2 separate regions of the Homo sapiens genome follow, and region 2 is linked to region 1. Evidence: fine-mapped expression QTL. A gene starts in region 1. The other region holds a variant in brackets. All regions are shown on one strand. Distances are between the middles of the regions.

What was found. PIP is the estimated chance that this variant, and not a neighbour inherited with it, causes the effect.
Region 2: its variant is the best candidate, but not a certain one, in a credible set for the expression of POLK in left ventricle (GTEx, PIP 0.76).

What each region holds. Positions count from the first base shown.
Region 1 is chr5:75,509,651-75,514,049 of GRCh38, forward strand. POLK (DNA polymerase kappa) reads left to right here and starts at 2,241. Exons shown (of 15, transcript NM_016218.6): 1 at 2,241-2,264. It overlaps CERT1 (ceramide transporter 1), which reads right to left and starts at 1,979. Exons shown (of 17, transcript NM_001379029.1): 1 at 1,462-1,979. The coding sequence starts at 1,557. RefSeq lists enhancers at 1,336-1,405, 2,156-2,535.
Region 2 is chr5:75,621,228-75,625,626 of GRCh38, forward strand. All of the region lies in intron 3 of ANKDD1B (ankyrin repeat and death domain containing 1B), which reads left to right. Among named protein-coding and RNA genes, the nearest start is that of ANKDD1B, 12 kb to the left of the region's middle. The variant T/C (reference allele first, on the strand shown) is at 1,961.

The sequences.
Region 1 (4,399 bases):
CAGTAGGTCAAAAGTACAATTTGTTTCGTAAAATACTTAACACATCACAATACTAATATGGCAGTCAGCTTCCCATCTTATGAGCAGTGATGAAACTACCAAAATCACTGAGAAGCAAGTAACCCACTTCCTATTACCAACTGAAAATGTATACCTACTACACAATGTGTTCAATAGAGATTCCTAAATTACAGGATACATTTAATCTAAAGAAATCCTGAGGAGCTTCTCGTTACTGAAAACCTTGCACTGAAATTTCAAGAATGATCACAGCATCAATATACAACATAATTTTGCTGCTATACAAATAAAAGTCAACACTTGCAATCCTTAGTTCTGACTACTCATGCCTTTCCTGGCCCCCTTCTCATTAGCTTTCTAGACATTATAAAAGCCTAATATGAAACAATTCCACAAATAATGTCCAAGTGATTTGCCAAATATGAATACTGGAAACAGGGTGATTTCTTAATAGCCACTGGCTGCACATGACATAGTATCTTATGACCAGCTTGTTGAGGGACTGGCCCAGCTCCCCCTCTCCAAGTTAACTGCTAGCTCCAGCCATGTCTAAAAAAGTTTAACAGGAAGGGAGAGAGAAGTCAAAAAGGCTACGTGAATCTTCTTACAGCAAAAACTTAAAAAAAAAATCCCCACAACTATGTAATATCAAGAGATCATCCACCTGCAGTCCTATAATGACTGCTTTGCTAAAATTTTGATACAGGGATTTTAAAAAATATATAAAAGATAAAACATCTTTTCCTTACCCTCGACCCCTTACCGCAAAAATATTTTATTATTAAGTAATGCTCTTCCTGGACTAAAGATCAGTCTCCATTCTCACATGTTCCAAGTTACTATGAATATTTCCTGTACCCATCATGTGCCGATTCAATATCTCTATTCTGAACTAAGGTACAGGGTGAGGGAGAAAGTCCTCCACATTCATCTGTCTCACTACATCTAACCTAGCAGAATTCAACACCTCAAATTTCAACACCAAGCTGAGTCGCTCCAGCTTCTGTCGAAAGAGTTGCGTCCGCAGTGCCCCCCAACCTACTCGGCTTGGCATCCTCAGAGAGACCAACCTCTTTTAAGAGGTCCGACTTGAACCGCTCCCATGCCCAGTCGTTCGGACACCGCTGAAGCCCAACCCGGATTCCTTACACCCGGGACAGCTGCCGCCCTAAGTCCCAAGTCACGGCGCGCATCTGGCCTCCCAAACTGGATCTCAGGTTTATACACCCTTTCCCTGGTCCTCGGCTGCCCCCGACGAGCCCCCGGGCAACAAGGACAGTGCCCCTATATCCCCGCCTCATCCCTAGTCGCTGCAGCAACACTCAGCCTCGCACCCCGGCACGTTCCGCGCCTCCCGCCAGCCCCACCCCACCGCCTCAGCGGATTGCCTCGCTGCAGGTGAGTCTGGCCAGGGGTCCCTTGGCACCAGGGGTTGCTCACCTTACTGAGGACCCCGCAGCGCTCCACAGGCGGCCCAGACTCCGTCTCTGGATCCTCCTCCGAGCCCGACGAGTTCCAGCTCTGATTATCCGACATGGAGGCTCGACAACCGAGCAGGAGACCGGCCCCCGCTCCCTCAGCTGCGCCGGAGGAGGCGCCCAGTCCTCGGGGTGAAGGGTCGGGGGATGGCGAAGCGAAGAGTGCCCGCTCCGGTGTGGGGGGGAGCAGGAGGAGGGACGAAGTCCGCCCGCCGCGCCGCCGCCGCGCCTGACACCGAGCGGAGCGAGGAAGGAGGACGAGCGGTGAAGGAAGCCTACCCTTCCAGCCGTCAGCCGCCGCCGCCGTCGCCGTGACCCCTGCGTTGCGCCCGGCGCTGCCACCCGAACTTAGCCCCCTCGATGCCAATTTCAAATAGGGAAGGAAAAGGGAAAAGAAGGGAAGAGAAAATCCGGCCGCTGAGTCCCGCGTCCACTCACACCTCCGCTACCGCCGCCATCTTCCTGCCTGGCCCACTATTTACCCTCCCCTCCCCTGTCCTTTCCCCTCCCCTTCGTCCTCCCATTCTCCCCCACTACTCCCCGCCCCGTCCCCCTCCCGGCGTCTGACGCGACACGCCGAGCCTTCGGGATCCTCCTCCCGAACCCTACCTCCGGCTCTCCCGGGTGACGACGGGTAGAAAAGCAGGAGGAGCGGAGAAAGGAGAGGGCGGGGTAGGGATGCAGCTGTGCTGCATTCTGGGAAGGGCGTTGGTCCGTCGCTCGCGCAGCCTCCTGGGAGTTGTAGTCGCGATCCTGAGGTAACGGGTGAGTATCCCGCGCGGGGATCGCTTGTCCCCTTGGGGCCTTGTCAGTCGGTGGGTGGGCTTCGTTTGACAGTTGCGTGACCAGCCCCTCGGCCTCGCTTCTATCCTTGCCTTGTGTGTTTATGACGAACCCTCCGGGCTTGCGGGCCCAGACGTGAGAGAGCTTTCCGCTGAAGATGACGGGCCTGCTTTCCAGGGCGGCTTGTCGAAAGCCCGGGAGCATCTGGCCGCTTCCGCCTCAACCATGGGCTGGGGTTTTGTGAGCTACTAGTGCCAAGGGTTTTCTTTCCACCAGACCACCGCTGTAAATCTCGAGGGTCTTACTCATTAGAAGTTAGAATTCACATTTGACGTTTAAAGGAAGAATTTCCTTAGTACCTTCTCACAAGCACGCACTTCGCATTTTTAGATTTCTAGAGTTTGCTTTGTAGAAAGTAATTTTGAGGTTGTCAGAGAATAAATGACGTTAGAAAGGTTTTTAAAGTAAAACAAGAATGTGAGATGATAGCCTGGGATTTTCTCTTGGTTGTAAATGAATATCTTACTGAGAACCACGTTAACCATGCCTGCCCCTCAAAGATAGGAAAGGTTGGATATATAGAAACTTTCTCGTATTAGAAATACCGAAGTGCAGTGGTTTTGTGTGTACAAGGGATTAGGCAATAGGAGGCTATTTTTGTTTTAAGACTAGGGTTGAATTAGCAGAAAGACCAATAGAAGATCTAACAACTCTTGTCAGTTGTCAAGGATAACTTTGATTATGAGACTTTGACTTTGTAGCTTCAGTAATTTCCTCTCGTTAGCTATTTTAATATAGTCGATTTCCTTGTAATTGCCAAGAGTAAAATTTGTTATTAAACCTTAGAAAGAGTACTTTCTTACTACAAGGATGGGACGATAGGAGCGAAATTTCGAGTCTAAGGGAAAACGCTGGCCGAGTGTGGTGGCTCACGCCTGTAATCCCAGCACTTCGGGAGGCCGAGGTGGGTGGATCACCTGAGGCCGGGAGTTTGAGACCAGCCTGGGCAACAAGGTAAAACCCCGTCTCTACTAAAAATACAAAGATTAGCCGAGCATGGTGGTAGGTGCCTGTAACTCCAGCTCTTTATATCCTGGTTTCAAATCTAGGCTTGATGACCTTCTCCCATATCCCAGTATCATATTTTTTTCTTCCTGCATGGGGGATTAATTACGATTCTGAATGGTTGGTAGCATGAAGCTAGGTTATCCCTATCGTGGCAATGGATATTTAAGTAGGCATTGCCAATATTTATCTTGCTTTCTTTTACTTTCTTCTTTTTCTGACCATCCACACTCCATTTATATTGATGAGTTCTTTTACTAATATCAATTATTATTATATTATGCTCATACTGCCATGTCTTATTCTGCAGCTTTGATCCTTAAGGTGACTTTGCATATCTGTCTAGGACTCCTTTATCTGTTGATTTTTACCATTTAAGTCTCCAAAGACAGCTGTATTTTTGGAAAAGTGGGAGGGAAGAGGTAGATGGGGATACTCATTGATACCTTAATGCACTTCACAGCTGCTTGAGAATATGTCAGATCTCATAAAAAGTTCTAACATTCGAGAATAAGACAGTGATTTCAGAAATGGAATTTCAAAGGGTGTGTAGGCCACCCTTTTTATCCTGTTTCCTATTGTAGAAATGAGAGCCAGGCTAGGAATGTTTCAAGCAGAAATATTCTTACTATTCAATGAAATTGAAAATGTATTCCCATATCTTTTACTCCTATCTGTTTGGTTTATGGGATAAAAACTTGTTAGAGTAGTTGGTATTTCATAGGCTTCACTATAACATTGGAAAATCTTTTAGTCTAAAAAGCACACAGTACGGTACACCAATGAACAGTATTAGTGCCCACTCTTGGCATGTACACATGTTCTTTCTGTCGTTTTTATTTTGCTTAGCTTTTGAGTCTCTTCCTGTTACTGTGAGAAATTCTTTTATTAATATTTTAAAGGCATACTATATAAAGCAGTGTGGTGGTATATTAGGTATCAGTAGAATCCTCTTGATAGTTATTTAGTAAACGTGTTTTGCTTCCTGTTTTTTTCTAACCTTTTTATTGTTTCACTTCTACTATAATTTCACATCCTTTTCTTCTTAGTCA
Region 2 (4,399 bases), 110 kb after region 1:
ATAGGAGCTCCCTTCTCCTCTTTAGACCAGAATGAGAGAGCTTCTCTTGGAAATCTTTCTGACTGTGCCCAGGGCACAGTTCCATGATTTGCACTGCCTTGAGTCCAAGTTGGAAGGTATGGAAGGAAAAGAAAAATCAGGAAAGTCACTGCAGGATTGTCCTTACTTTGAGTTCTGATTTTTTCCCCAATCCACCTGATACCATTTACAGAGTCCTCAGCTGTTCCATGCATTCTTTTTTTTTTTAATTTTAATTTAAAATTTGTGTGGGTATATAGTAAGTGTACGTTCCATGCATTCTTTCCAGAGATTTTATTTGTTTTGGTGGCAGAGACAGAGTGGACTGTGCTTACTTCGTTTTAACAAAAACCATAACCCCAAATCTCTAACATACCAAAGTAGCGGGAATCATACAGCAAACACCTATGTATCCATTGCCCATATTAGATTGCATCTTTTCTTTTAAACAGAATATCTGAGGATTGCCATGTTTCTAATATGTTAAATACAGGACTGGTTTGTGTCAGAGTGCAAATCAATTATTCCTGAAATGATGGAGAGATATTTCACCAACTTGTTCTCCTTGAGGTTTTTCTAAACATCTATTTGTATTACCTTGTCTCTGAAGCATGACTATTTCTCTTAACTTTGCCTGAAGATTGAAATAATGTCAGGTGGGAAATATAGTAATTCCTGGTGTGTCTCTTTTTCCTGCTTTGAAGGTTTCACTAAGTTAAATATATTTATAACTAATTAAATCATCTACAGTGGCATTACTCTGTAACTAGTAAAATGTTTTTCATAATTCAACCAAGGTCATGTTTGACCCAATCTGGCAGCTTCTTTATCTGAATGGTGAGCCTTGAGTTTGACTTCTTCTAAGTTCTAACACCATTTGCAAAGAGCCAACAGTTGATCCCCTTCACCATCAATATTTATTCAGTGGCTGTTGTGCATATGTCTCAGTGTCAACTACTGAGGATTCAATTAGACAGAAGTCATTGCTATTTAAAGTGTAGTCCCAGGACTTGAAGCATGCACATCACCTGCAAGCTTGTTAGAAATGCAGGATCTCAGGCCCCACCCCAGGCCTTAATCAGAATCTGCATTTTTAAAAAATTCCTAGGTGATTGTTTTTGGGAAGCACTGGTATGAAATAGAGTCATGGCTTTGCAGGGCCTACAGTCTATCTGGGGAGCAAGGACAGAGACTGTACCAGCTGAGTACCATTCAAGGCACTGCATGCTAGGGACCAAAGTGAGCAGCAACCCCGAGTCCTGGGAAGAGGCAGACTGGATAAATGGAGGCTCTTACTCCAGACAGGTGTAAAGAATCCCAGGTGGGTGCAAGTGGTGCTCAGAGGATAAAAACATCTGCTGACAAAGCTTCTTACCTCTGGGAAGCTCCTAACATGGAAGTGTTCCCCAGAGGAAATTATTGGCCTCACCTATGACGAGACTGGCAATGAGGACAGGTTATCAGTGACTATTGAGCAATGTACACTTTACAGAGCTTCGTGAGCCAACTGTGAGTGTAATTTGTGACACATGGTCTTAAGTAGTCTCAGGCATGCCAGTTTTATATCAGAAGAATTTCTTTTATGGAGGTTCTTCTCGGGGAGTTTACACCTGTGAGCGGTGATTCATTGCCTCTGAGGAACAATGGCTCCACTCTGAGTTTGTGGTTTTAGAGACTCAAGTTGATTGCAGCTTGAATTCCCAGCTTTTAGATTTTATGATCGGAGCTTCGAATTTTAAAATGTAGGCTGCTTTGAAATTAGGAATTACCTTTTAGGGAAAAATAGATCTCCTATCAAAGAGTGATTTGTCACCTGTCTCAAATATTTCTGGTGGTTTTTTTTTCTTTTTGAGGTGGAGTTTCACTCTTGTTGCTCAGGCTAGAGTACAACGGCGCAATCTTGGCTTGCCGCAACCTCCTCTTCCCAGGTTCAAGCGATCCT[T/C]CCAAGTAGCTGGGATTACAGGCATGCGCCACCATGCCTGGCTAATTTTGTATTTTTAGTAGAGATAGGGTTTCTCCATGTTGGTCAGGTTGGTCTCGAACTCCTGACCACAGGTGATCCGCCCACCTTGGCCTCCCAAAGTGCTGGGATTACAGGCAGGAGCCACCGTGCCTGGCCTTCTGGTCTCTATTTGAAAGCAGATTTAGTATTACTAAATATAGAGCGCTGACTTGTAGGGAACTCCAAATTAAGAGGTGGAATTGTGTTTAGGGAACATGTTTTGAAGAACCTCAAGTAGTCAGTCATTGTTCATCATTTCTCTTTGGAACAAAGAGTCCAGAAATGAAGAGTCTTCTTCATGCTGGAATTGTAAACCTACAAATGGACTAACTCACCGTCTAGAGTGATAGCTGAAATATAAATTTGATAGGATATGCACATTAAGAGTGGGGTTTCTCAACAGTGGTGCTATTGACATTTTGGGCCTGATAATTCTTTGTCGTTGGGGCTGCCCTGTGTATTGTAGGATGTTTAGCAGTGTCCCTGGCCTCTATCCACTAGGTGCCAATATTAACCTCCCCCCACCCACGGCATGACAGTAAAAAATATCTCCATACATTTTTCCAAATGTTTCCTGGGGGCAAAATCACCCCCAGTTGAGAATCACCAGTTTAGAGTTATGCCTCAATAATTTGGGACTTGCTGTTTTACTCTCCCAACATGAATTCTACTGAGAATAAGAGAATACATTAATGCAACTTGGGGGCAGCCAAAATAAATGCCAAAAGGCTTATGTACTTTACAAATAGAAGTGTACTGCAGGCCCTCATTCCTTAGTCATTTACTCATACTGTGTACATCTAACAAACAGTTTCCAGATCACAAACACAACTGATTAGAAAAGGCAAATAAAATGTAGTGTGAGAGCTTCCTTTGGGTAGGCACTTGTACTGAGGAAATGGATTACTTTTTCATGGAGCTAAAGGAAACAGAAAAACAGACACTTGAGTTTGCAGATAAGGAAGCTGAAGCTGAGAGTTAGAACTAAGTTCACCAAGATCCCCGTACTTGAAAGTGATAGAAAGTGACCAGAATTTGAGATTAGTTCTGCTTGATCCTGAAGATCAGGCTCATAGTGTCTGCCCTATCCTGCTTCTGTAACTTAGGGCCCGGGGTGCAGATGCATTTTTTTGCTTATTTCCCTCGAATCTCACCTCCCTAAAATAACCAGTGTTAACTGCTGGCTATGCTTCCTTCCACACTTTTCTCCTTATTTGGTAGACAAGTCAGCATACAACTGCCCACAGCATCCCTACAGGTCACTAAGTCCTGGTCTCTTTCAGTCTCACAACTTTATGCACATGTGTTTGCACACAGACAAATCTAAATAATTTTGTGTAAATAAAATATTTTAAGTAGCATCTATATAAATGAGATCCTCTTTATAACTTGTGTTTTTTTCACCTGTGTGTACCCTCTCCTCCTCTGGTAACCATACTTAACAATCTGAGATATGTGTGTTTATTTCTGTACTTTTCTCCTGCTCACATAGTCATATCTATATTGATCAATCGACCTACCTACCCACCAACCCACCTATAGATAGATATAGATATATACATATACATGTATGGGGTTTTGTTAATCACTCCTTTTTAACAAATGGGATTATATCATATTTATTGTCTATCTTATTTTCCATATTTAGCAAAGCTCATGGAAATGTTTCCAAGTCAATTGTTGTAGCACCAATTCATTATTTTTAATGCTTGCATTATATAGTCTGACTATTCCATAACTTATTTAGCATTCCTATGTTGATAGGCTTTTATCTTGCACTCAGTTTTTAGTGTTACAATTACTATCCTTATATATATAGAATTAGGTACTGACATTTTTATTTTCATGGGATAGATTCCCAGGAGTGGGATTGCTGGTTGTATTTTTAATTCTGATAGATATTGCCAGATACTTAAACAATAATCATTTCCATTTCCTTTCTTTGTCCATTTTTCTGAGTTTGTCTTTTTCTCCTCCATATGTAAGTGTGCTTCATGCATTAGAGAATAACCATTTATCTTTATTAAAGATACATTTTTAAAAATCTGTCATTTTTAATTGACTTTATTATCTATCTGTTCTAACTCTGGATTAAGAGACTATACATTATAGTCTGGATTTTATTCTAATATATTTATTGTTTGTGTGCTATTTTGTGAGTATGGTATGATATAGCTTTTCATTTTATTTTCTTCCAGATGGAGAACCACTTGCCTGTACCACTTATTAAGTATAACCATTTTTCCCCATAGGACCGAAATATCACTTTTGCTGCATATTAAATTCTCTATTTCTTAGTTTTCAACAATCTAGTATTAATTTGGCCTTTGTTGATGAGGCAGTATATGGCTGCAGCTTGTCAGAGTGATAGATTCTCTT